2 separate regions of the Homo sapiens genome follow, and region 1 is linked to region 2. A link means that fine-mapping ties the variant in region 2 to the expression of a gene that starts in the linked region. Tissue or cell type: whole blood. Region 2 holds a variant in brackets; the other region holds the start of a gene. All regions are shown on one strand. Distances are from middle to middle.

Region 1 (5,000 bases), 81 kb before region 2:
GTTTGGCTGTGTCCCCACCCAAATCTCATCTTGAATTGTAGCTCCCATAATCCCTACATGTCATGGGAGGGACCTGGAGGGAGGTAATTGAATCATGGGGGTGGGTTTTTCCCATGCTGTTCTCATGATAGTGAATAAGTCTCACAAGATCTGATGGTTTAATAAAGGGCAGTTCCCCTGCACATGCACTCTTGCCTGCCACCATATAGCCACCATATAAGACGTGACTTTGCTCCTCTTTTGCCTTCTACCATGATTGTGAGGCCTACCCAGCCATGTGGAGCTTTGAGTCCATTAAATCTCTTTTTCTTTATAAATTACCCAGTCTTGGGTATTTCTTCATAGCAGTATGAAATTAATACACATACCATGACATTTGTCAGTGGGAAGCCATGGGCAGTGCACTGACCATTTCTCAGGTGAGGAATAGAGCCAGGGAAGCCACTGGTTTTCATTAGACAAAGTGAACTGGGCACTTGAGAGCCTGACATGGCTCCCTGGACCTCCTGGAGCCATTCTCTCCAAGGCTGGAGACCCAGTGAACTCTCCTGGGAGGTGAGGTTCCTCTGTGACAATGTCTGACCTGACAGCAAATGACACCAGTCTAACCATTGGTGGATAATATGGCCTGCAGAGCCAGATGGCCTGGATTGGATTTTGTCTTTGCCAACCGTCTAACCCCGGGGCAGTACTTAACCCCTCTTGGCCTCAGTGTCTCCATCTGTAAAACAGGGAGAATAACAGTCTCTGGCCTAAAGGGTAACTGGGAGGATTAAATGAATTAAAGAATTTAAAACACTTAGAATAGCTCCTGGCACACAGAAAGCACTATGTACTCAGCTATTATTGTTATTATTATCATCCATGGGTGTTTGAACTTTTTGGAGGGAAGGAATGCACCTGCCACTCAATGTCCTCCTTCATTTTCACTCTGTGCTCCCTGTGGTATCATCACCCAAAGTGAAACTGACCATCACAGTCAGGGTCCTCTGTAAAACAAGTGGGAAAGGGAATATAACCGTAACTGCAATGTTAATCAGCTCATATTAAGGATTTTCCACATGCCAGACCCTGCGTGAAGCACTTTATATGTTAGCACGTGTTAGACCTTCACAACAACCCCAATAGGCATGTGCGATGAAAAAGATCTCCATTTTGCAGACGTTGAGGACATGTGGCTCACGAAAGTGAACTTGCCCACGTTGACAAAAGGATCTCGGCGTCAGTTCCAAGAGCTGCCACCAGGTGACAGTGCCCATCCACTTTCCAATTGCGCAGTCTGGCGGGAACACACTTTGGGTCGTCCCGCAAACATTTAATGAGCGCCTACTGTGCCTGGAACTGTTCTGGGCTCTGAGGATCCATGCAAATAAACCAGGAGTGGGGCGAAAAACTGCCATTATGGTTCTTCCTTTCCATTTTCCCTTGAATATAATAAAAGGTATCCCAGAGATGCGTGCCCAAGGGGGATGTGGCCTAACCGGACCGGAACTGGGAGGCTGGCAGGGAGGGATGGGAGTATCTGGAAGGGCCACGGTCCCCAAAGATCAGGGGCTGCCACTATTCCCAGAAGGAGGTGTTCTGCATCTCCCCTTCCTGCAGCCCCCGGGAGAGGGGAGCAGGGGTCCGTCCTATCCCTTTTGGTCTTATGTGGCTGGGATGGTTGCGGCGACGGGGGTAGAGATTGGGGGGCGCACCGCGGAGGGAGAAAGGAAATCTCACCCTGAGAATCTGGAGTGCAGGGAAGGGATGCTGCTCAAAGGTCTGTTTCTGGCTTTGGCGGGGGGCCACCTGAGACTGCCAGGGTTTGATGGTCTGAAGGTCACCCAGGGAACCAGCCCCATATGGGGTGCCGGAGCGCAGCTCCCAGGCCTGGTCGAAGCAATGCGACCTCGGAGAGGCCTGAGGACTAGGACGGGGTGAGGGGGACTCAGAGACGGCTGCCCCGGACCCCTCCTTCAAGCAGGTCCCACGGCCGCCCAGCGGACACGCGTCCGGGCTGTGCCCTGACCGTCTGCGGAGCGCACGGCCAGTGGCCCGGGCCGCTGAGTGTGTGAGCCCTGAAGGGCAGTGGACATGTGCGTACGTGGGTGATGTGTGCGGTAGGGGTGGTGGCGATCCTGCGTAGGGACCCACGTGAGGGGTGCACCGACTGGACGTGTGTGTTTCGAGGGGCCAAGGAAGCGGGTGTTGGTCCCAGTGTGCGTAAACGGACAACGACATCTGGGAGTTGGGCAGTGAGGAGAGAGAAGAGTGTGTCCAGGAGGAACCTGCCTGGAGGAGGCCTAGCGGTGTGTGTGCGCCTAGGTGTATACCGGGGCGTTGGTGACTTCGAGAGGCACCGGGCGGGATCGATCCTCTCTGCGTCCTGGACCTGGTGCTGGTGTGTTTCGGGGAAGTTACTGCTTATGAACCCCCCTTGGAGCGTGGCCTGGGGGCAGGAAGGCTTCCGCGCTGGGACCCCTGGGTCGCGATACCTCCCTCGGTAAGTGTATTGGCTAGGGGAGTGTTCCCGCAAATGGATCTACCCTGGGGAGTTGCCCGGCTCGTCTGGACTGCTTACGGGCGCACTGACGTTGTGGGGGGAATGTCCCCGAATTGGGGGCACGAGGTCGGGGGAATCGTCTCTGAGATCCGGGCTAGAAGCTACGAGCTTGGGCTCCGGGGGTGCATGCAGACGGCGCCTAGCCCCGCGCGGAACCGCCGGCGGGACCGGGGGTGGGGCTCGGAGGCCCGGGGGCGGGGCCGGCCGGGGGCGGGGGCGGGGGCGGGGCCGCGGCCGCTGCAGCAGCGCGGGCCGGGCCAGGGGGCGCCTCGCGCGGCAGCGACTCTGGCAGGCGCTGCAGTGAAGCTGGACCCGCAGGCGGGCGTGCGTGGAGCGGGGGCCGCGGCCGCGCCGCAGAGATGTGACTCGGGCCGAAGGCCAGCTGGAGCGTCGGCGCTGCGGGGCCGCGGGGGTCGGTAAGTGCGAGCTGCGCCGATGCAGTGGAGGACGCTGTGGGGACCCCAGAAACTTTTCCCGCCGTGGATTTGGGAGAATTGGGGGGTCCGCTTCTTGTGTTTTTCTAAGCGCCCCCCCAACCCAAGCCAGGGAGTTTATTGCTGGGGGAGATGTGGAATCTGGGCGAGGGGAACCACGGTGCGACGAGAGCAGAGCCGTAGAGGGGTGGGCGGGGGAGGGGAGGATCTGGGGACCTTTACGGGGGGAGGGAGACTGTGCCCGGACCAGGTAGAGATCCAAGTCTCCCAGGAGGGTGTGGGGGCGACCACAGGTGAAGGGCAGCTGGGAGGGTAAAGGAGCCCAGCCGTGTCCTAGTGACTCGTCATGTGTGAGGAGCTGCGGGCTGGTCCTGGGGCCGCGTTGGGGGCTGACTGTGGACAGGGCAGACGCAGCCGGGGGCACAAGGGCTGGACTTTGGGGGTGAACAGCCGCACCTGTCGCGGGGGCTGGGGGTCAAGCCCGCAGCCGGCTTGAGTGCGCATTACTCAGCAAGGGGAGGGGGGGACACGGCGGTGGGAGATGGCAGAGCTGAGACCTGGGCTGGGGACGAATGACGGGGAGGGGTGGGGAGGAGGGGGCGGCTGCATACAATGGCGGGGGGGGCAGTGGCGTTTCCCTTCCAGACAGGGGGCACTTGGACCTCTGGAAGAGGCGGCTAGGCTGGAGATAAGGACTAGACCTGTTCTCGGTCCCCTCTCCTTGGGGGACACAGGCTTCCAGCCCCACAAGGACCCCACACATCCCGGGGTCCCTAGCGCTTAGGCCGAAAAGGGAGCGCGCGGGAGGAGCCCGCACCCGCCTTGGCCCCGGGCAGCCGGTTGAACAGCCTGGGAAGGGGCCAACGACCTTGCCCCAGAAATCTCCCCCGTGCAGCGGGTTCACTCCTCCGTCCTTGCTCTGTCACACCCAGGCCTAGCCAGTCCTCCCTTTCCGTCCCCCGTTCGCTAAGGGGGCGGCTCCTTGGAGCGCGGACAAAGGCCCCTGGAGTGTGGCGGGCAGCGGCGTCCCCGCCTGGGGCCCCAGCCCACGCGCCACATTGGCCGCCCAACTGCACCAGGCCGGGGGGCACCTGAACAGAGCCCAGAAAGCCCTGGGGGACCCCGCAAAGACAAGAGAAGTGGGGGAGGGATCTGGCACAAAAACCCCGGCACTTCAGCCAAGGAACCTTCTTAATTCAGAAGTTTCTTCGGTGGGGACTCGGGCTTGCGGAGGATCCAGGCTTTGAGTTAAACTGCATGCAAATGACATGTAAATAGAATGCAAATTGGCATCTGTCGTTTGGAAGCCCTCCCGGCCAGTTTGGTATCTAAGACTGTGGAGTGAACAGTTTGCTATCTGCTCCCTGCTCTAAGCCTGGAAAGGGGTCAGCTGAGTTGGGAAGGGAAGGAGATTCCAGGAGGAAGGAGCCGCCATTTGGGGGCACAGGCAGCAAGACAGGCAGTTTTGTTAGAAAGATAAACTCAGAATCTTTACTGGATTAATATGTTATTTCAAGAAACGTGCCAGGGACAGAACTGGGTGCCTTGTATAAAACGGACAAAACCCCTGCTCTCCCGGGGCTGGGGAAGTGAGTGGACAAACATTAAACAAACCCATAGCAAATGGCTATGAAATCCGATTGGGGTGAGGACGGCCAGGAAAATAAGATGGGGTGATGTAAAAGAAGGTGACAGGGGTGTATGTACCTGAGATGACTGTTCCGGGAGTGACATTTGAGTGGAGCCCAGCTAGAAGAGGGGCCCTCCGCTGGGAGGTCTTGGAGGAAGACTGAACCAGGAGGAAGGCACTGTGCCTGCAAAAGCTTGGAGGTGGGAATGAGCTTAGAGGAACTGAACAAAGGCCATTGTGGCTGGAGCTGTAGGCAGATTTGGGGGTGGGGATAGGGGAATGGTAGGGACCAGCCAGATCATGATCTTTTGGGTCATGGAAAGGAGTTTAGGGTTTATTCTGTTTGGACCAGTGAACCCTTGGAGGGTTTTGAGTGGGAGGCCATGGGATC
Region 2 (5,277 bases):
TCCCAGAGGGAGAGAACAAGTGAGCACAAGACTGCTGTGTCTTTAATAACCTAATCTTGGATGTGGCACACCATTATTTCTGCCATATTCTACTGCCACACATATTAACCCTGATACAATGTGGGAAGAGACTCCCCAGTAATGGGAATCCCAGGGGGTGGGGGTTATTGGGGAGTCACTGTGGATGCTGACTACAGTTTCCTGATGAAAACTCAGATCATGTCATTCTTCTGCCCATCATTTCTTATCAGTCAGAATAAAATCCAAAGTTCCAGCATCCAAATGAAAGCTCACCTTTGATTCTACAAGATCTGTCCCCTGACTGCTTCCTCATCTCCTCTCCCATTCACCTCTAGCTCACTGCTTTATTTTTTCTTTTTTTGGGGGGTGGGGGGGTGGGGAGTGGTTTGAGACAGGGTCTTGCTCTGTCACCCAGGCTGGAATGCAGTGGCATGATCTCAGCTCACTGCAAGCTCTGCCTCCCGGGCTCAAGCCATCCTCCACCTCGGGTTCCCAAGTAGCTAGGACTACAGGTGTGTGCCACCACACTCAGCTATTTTTTTTTTGTATTTTTTGTAGTGAGTTCATTTCACCATGTTGCCCAGGCTAGTCTCAAACTCCTGTACTCAAGTGATTTGCCCGCCTCAGCCTCCCAAAGTGCTGAAATTACAGGTGTGAGCCACTGAGCCTGGCCTCACTTTTATTTTCTAATATATATATAATGTATTTTTTAGACAGAGAGTCTCGCTCTGTCACCCAGGCTGGAGTATAGTGGTGCAATCATAGCTCACTGTAGCCTCAACCTCCTGGGCTCAAGCCATCCCCTCACTTTAGCCTCCATTAGCCTCTACCACCATGCCCAGCTCCAGCTCACTTACACACTGACTCTCTTGCTGGTCCTCAATACATCCAGCACCCTCCTGCTCCTGCAGGCCTTTGCATGTGCTTTTCCTTCTGCCTAGAATGAACTTCATTCAGGTCTCAGATCAAATAACACCTTCTCAGAGAGGCCTTCCTTGACCAAATTCACCATCTAAAATAGTAGCCGAGATGTCTTTTCAGGCTTTTGCATTTCTGACTACCGGATGGCCTCACCCAGACCTGTGCTGTGACTCAACCAGTCCTGTGGCTCCCCACCCAGAAGTAGACTCAGCACATGAGGACTGCTTTCCACACCCCTATGAGTTCATCCCCAACCAATCAGCAGCACCCATTCCCTAGCCCCCCCACCCCACCAAACTATCTTTGAAAAACCTCTAGCCTCCGAGCCTTTGGGGATATTGATTTGAGTAATAACTCTGTCTCCCATGTGGCATGGCTGGCCTCGTGTCAATTAAACTCTTTCTTTACTGCAATGCCTGGTTTCTATGAATTGCTTTTGTTTGTACAGCACACAGGAAGAACCCATGGTGTGGTTATAAGATGTAAATGTATATTGTGAGCTGCTGAGTTTTGGAGTTTGGGGGTGATTTGTTATGCAGCATTATTGTGACAATAGCTAACTGACACACTCTTTGACATTATGTTACTATGCATTTATTTGTATCTGTTTACAGTCTCCTGAAAGAATGCAAGCTCCATGAGGGCAGGGACTTTGTCTCCTTCCCTGCAGGTTGCCTAGCATCCAGAACAATGCCTGCCTGCCACATTGTAAGCACTCAATAATTACTAGTGAGTGAATATTAGCAAATGAATCCATCTCATTGTAGCACCTGCTTGCTTAACTATGATGCTATATTGCCTTCAAATCAGACCCCAAATTGCAAAGGATCAAAAAATAATTGTCTTGCACAGGAGATCTAGGCAGCATACTATTTACCAGGAAAATGTGACTCATACACCAAGCTGCTGGCCATTCTCTGTGCCAGATGCCATCTCTCTTCACCTGGGCCATATCTGAAGTCAGCCAGAAACGACAACCAACCCCTGCCTGAGAACGGAAGTGCTCCTTTAAATGACACTGGCTCACCTGGTTGGCTGGCTGTCCCCGGAGGAAAGCCAGAGACAGGGCTAATGAGCTCACACAAAGGGAGGAAATGCACCCCCACCCCCCTTCCTGGAACAGCTGCAGCAGGAGA[C/T]GCCCCTCTCTGGAAAGGAGGAAGAGGAAGCTGGGGAAAGCAGACCAACAATGTGGGGAAGCCACATACTCAAGAGAAAGCAGAAGGAAAAAAGAATCTGGCGCTTAAACAACGATTGTTGGAACTTTACGATGAAATATAATACAAATCAAGACCAACTCCTAAAGGTTTCTTTGGTCCTGCCATCTCAGGGCTCACCCTGGGTTGAAAGTATTGTGAATGAGAAATGTTTGGCTAAATGCCAGCCCATCAGCCACACTGGTATTGTGTTTTTCTTTAAATACAAATACTGGCCAGGTGCAGTGGCTCACACCTGTAATCCCAACACTTTGGGAGGCGGAGGGAGTGGATCGCTTGAGCTCAGGAGTTTCAGACCAGGCAACATGGCAAGACTCGTCTCTAAAAAAATACAAAAATCAGCTGGTGTAGTAGCTCACAGCTGTGGTCCCAGCTACTTGGGAGGCTGAACTGGGAGGGCTGTTTGAGCCTGGGAGGTGGAGGTTGCAGTAGGGTGAGATTGCACCACTGCACTCCAGCCTAGGTGACAAAGTGAGACCCTGTCTCAAAATACAACAACAACAAAAAAAACCACCACACACACACATACACACAACAAACCTTTTACCTCTGTTTAGGAAATAGAACCTCAAGTACTTTTTTATTTTATTTTTTTTTTGAGATGAAGTCTCCCTCTGTCACCCAGGCTGGAGTGCAGTGGTGTGATCTCAACTCACTGCAACCTCTGTCTCCCAGGTTCAAGTGATTCTCCTGCCTCAGCCTCCCAAGTACAGGCATCCACTACCATGCCCAGCTAATTTTTTTTTTGTATTTTTAGTAGAGACAGGGTTTCACCATATTGGCCAAGCTGGTCTGGAACTCCTGATCTCGTGATCCACCTGCCTCGGCTTCCCAAAGTGCTGGGATTACAGGCGTGAGCCGCCGCACCTGGCAAAGAACCTCCAGTACTTTTCAAATAGGAAAGTCACTGATATATAATCACCTCCATACTGACACCATTCATTTCTGCATCTACAGTTTACAGAACACTATCTCCTGTGTTGTTACATTTAGAGACTGGGCACGGTGGCCCACATTTGTCATCCCAGCACTTTGGGGGGCCAAGGTGAGAGAATCACTTAAGGCCAGGAGTTCGAGACTAGCTTGGGCAACATAGTGAGACCCCCATCTCTACAAAAAAAATTAGCTGTTTGTGGTGGTGTACAACTGTAGCCCTATCTACTTGGGAGGCTGAACTGGGAGAATCGTTTGAACTCATGAGTTCAAGTCCGTAGTGAGCTATGATTGCACCACTGCACTTCAGCCTGTACAGCAAACTAAGACCTTGTCTCTGAAAATAAAAAATAAAACATTTTAATTCCATGATAACTTGGTGAGCTAGACTGGGCAGCTATTATTATTCTTCATCTAAAAAGAAAAAAAGTTGTGATTTATCATTCAGTGATTTCTCCTGAATCATAAAACTGGTAGGTAGCAAAGTCAATTCCAATACATCAGTGGGTCTCAATCCTGGCTGCATGTTAGAGTCACCTGGGAGCTATTAAACAATACCCATCTCTGGCTGGATGCTGTGGCTCACACCTGCAATTCCAGCACCTCGGGAGGCTGAGGTGGGCGTATCACTTGAGGGCAGGAGTTTGAGACCAGCTTGGCCAACATGGTGAGACCCTGTCTTTACTAAAAATGCAAAAATTAGCCGGGTGCAGTGGCGTGCGCCTGTAATCCCAGCTACTCCGGAGGCTGAGGCAGGAGAATTGCTTGAACCTGGGAGGTGGAGGTTGCAGTGAGCTGAAATCATTCCACTGCACTCCAGCCTGGGTGACAGAGTGAGACTCTGTCTCAAAAAACAAAAAAACAAACAAACAAAACAAAACAAAACAAAAAAGCCAACAATAGCAAACCTATCTCTTGTTCTCACTGTGACCAGTTGAACAAGAATCTCAGGGGAATAAGACCCCAGGTATCAGAAATTAAAAACAAAATCTGTCAGTGGATGGCTTTGATGAACAGTGAAGCTCGAGACCATCACAATCCATAGGTTCAAATAAACGAGTCTTACGTAAAAGTCGTATGTGTTTATTCCTCAGCAGAGTTAAGAACCCCTTCCTTCATGTTTCTCCTCTTGCTGGGTTCTACAGTGGAATACTGTTCAGCAATAAAAAGGAAGGGACTACGCACACACCCAAACACGTGGGACAACAGCAAACGCATGGAGCCAAGTGAAGGAAGCCAGACTCGAAGGCTACATGATGTATGACTCCATTTATGTAACATGCTGGAAAAGGCAAAAGTATAGGAGCAGAAAACAAATCAGTGATTTCCAAGGTGAGATGGGAGCCTGCTTTGTGCCTTTGAAGAACTTAAAGGAGGGCATTAGTTGGCTTTTTAAAAAGAACCCCTATTCAGGAAAATAGAGCCAACAGCTGCAACAACAATAACAACAACAGCCAATATTTCTTGTGGATTTACTATGTCCTTGGCACTGTGCCATGTTCCTTATGTGGACTGAAGCATCTGATTCGATCTTCATAGGCAGGAATTATTACTCCCATTTTACAAACAGAAAACTGTGGCTCAGAAGTTACATAATCTGCCCATGGTTATTAAAACCCATTTATGCCTAGTGTTCCATTATTGGAACGCTAAGCACGTGGGAGTTATTTATATCCTACTGCTCAAAGTCGTCACCAAAGTCTGGTTGCAAAAATTCAAAAAATTACAATCTCAGGCATAAATGGGTTAATAACCTGACACGTTGGGATTCAAACAGGTCTGTCTGCTGCTAGAGCCCACATTATTAACAAATTGCCATAGGGCATGTTTTACCTGGAAAAAAAAAATAAGTCTTTGTCTTCAGCCACAACATTGAAGACAAGAAAGTTAAGGCCAGTAATGAGAACTTCAAGTGACCTTTCAGAAAAAATAAAACCTGTCGTGCTTAATAGCCCAGCCAGCTGCCCGACTTGGAGAAACCTCTCTCCCTCTCAGTGCTGAGCCTTAAGTTGTAATTTCCGCTTTTTGTAGAAAAATATGGGAGGAACTACAAAACCTTTTATTTGTATTGTTTAAAGGTCCTTTCCATACGTGTTTGGTTTTTATCCTGAGCTGTTTTCATCATCTATTTTCTATCTAACTATGTAGGCCAGATCTTCTCTAAATAGAAAGGAGTGGTTTTTCAGAA

Evidence for each region. PIP is the estimated chance that this variant, and not a neighbour inherited with it, causes the effect.
Region 1: GPRC5B starts here. The variant in region 2 is fine-mapped to the expression of GPRC5B in whole blood (TOPMed, PIP 0.99).

What each region holds. Positions count from the first base shown.
Region 1 is chr16:19,882,688-19,887,687 of GRCh38, reverse strand. It overlaps GPRC5B (G protein-coupled receptor class C group 5 member B), which reads left to right and starts at 2,840. Exons shown (of 4, transcript NM_016235.3): 1 at 2,840-2,961. RefSeq lists a silencer at 2,287-2,581 and enhancers at 4,097-4,827, 4,828-5,000.
Region 2 is chr16:19,801,821-19,807,097 of GRCh38, reverse strand. The region is part of intron 7 of IQCK (IQ motif containing K); the gene reads right to left. Among named protein-coding and RNA genes, the nearest start is that of IQCK-AS1, 38 kb to the right of the region's middle. The variant C/T (reference allele first, on the strand shown) is at 2,079.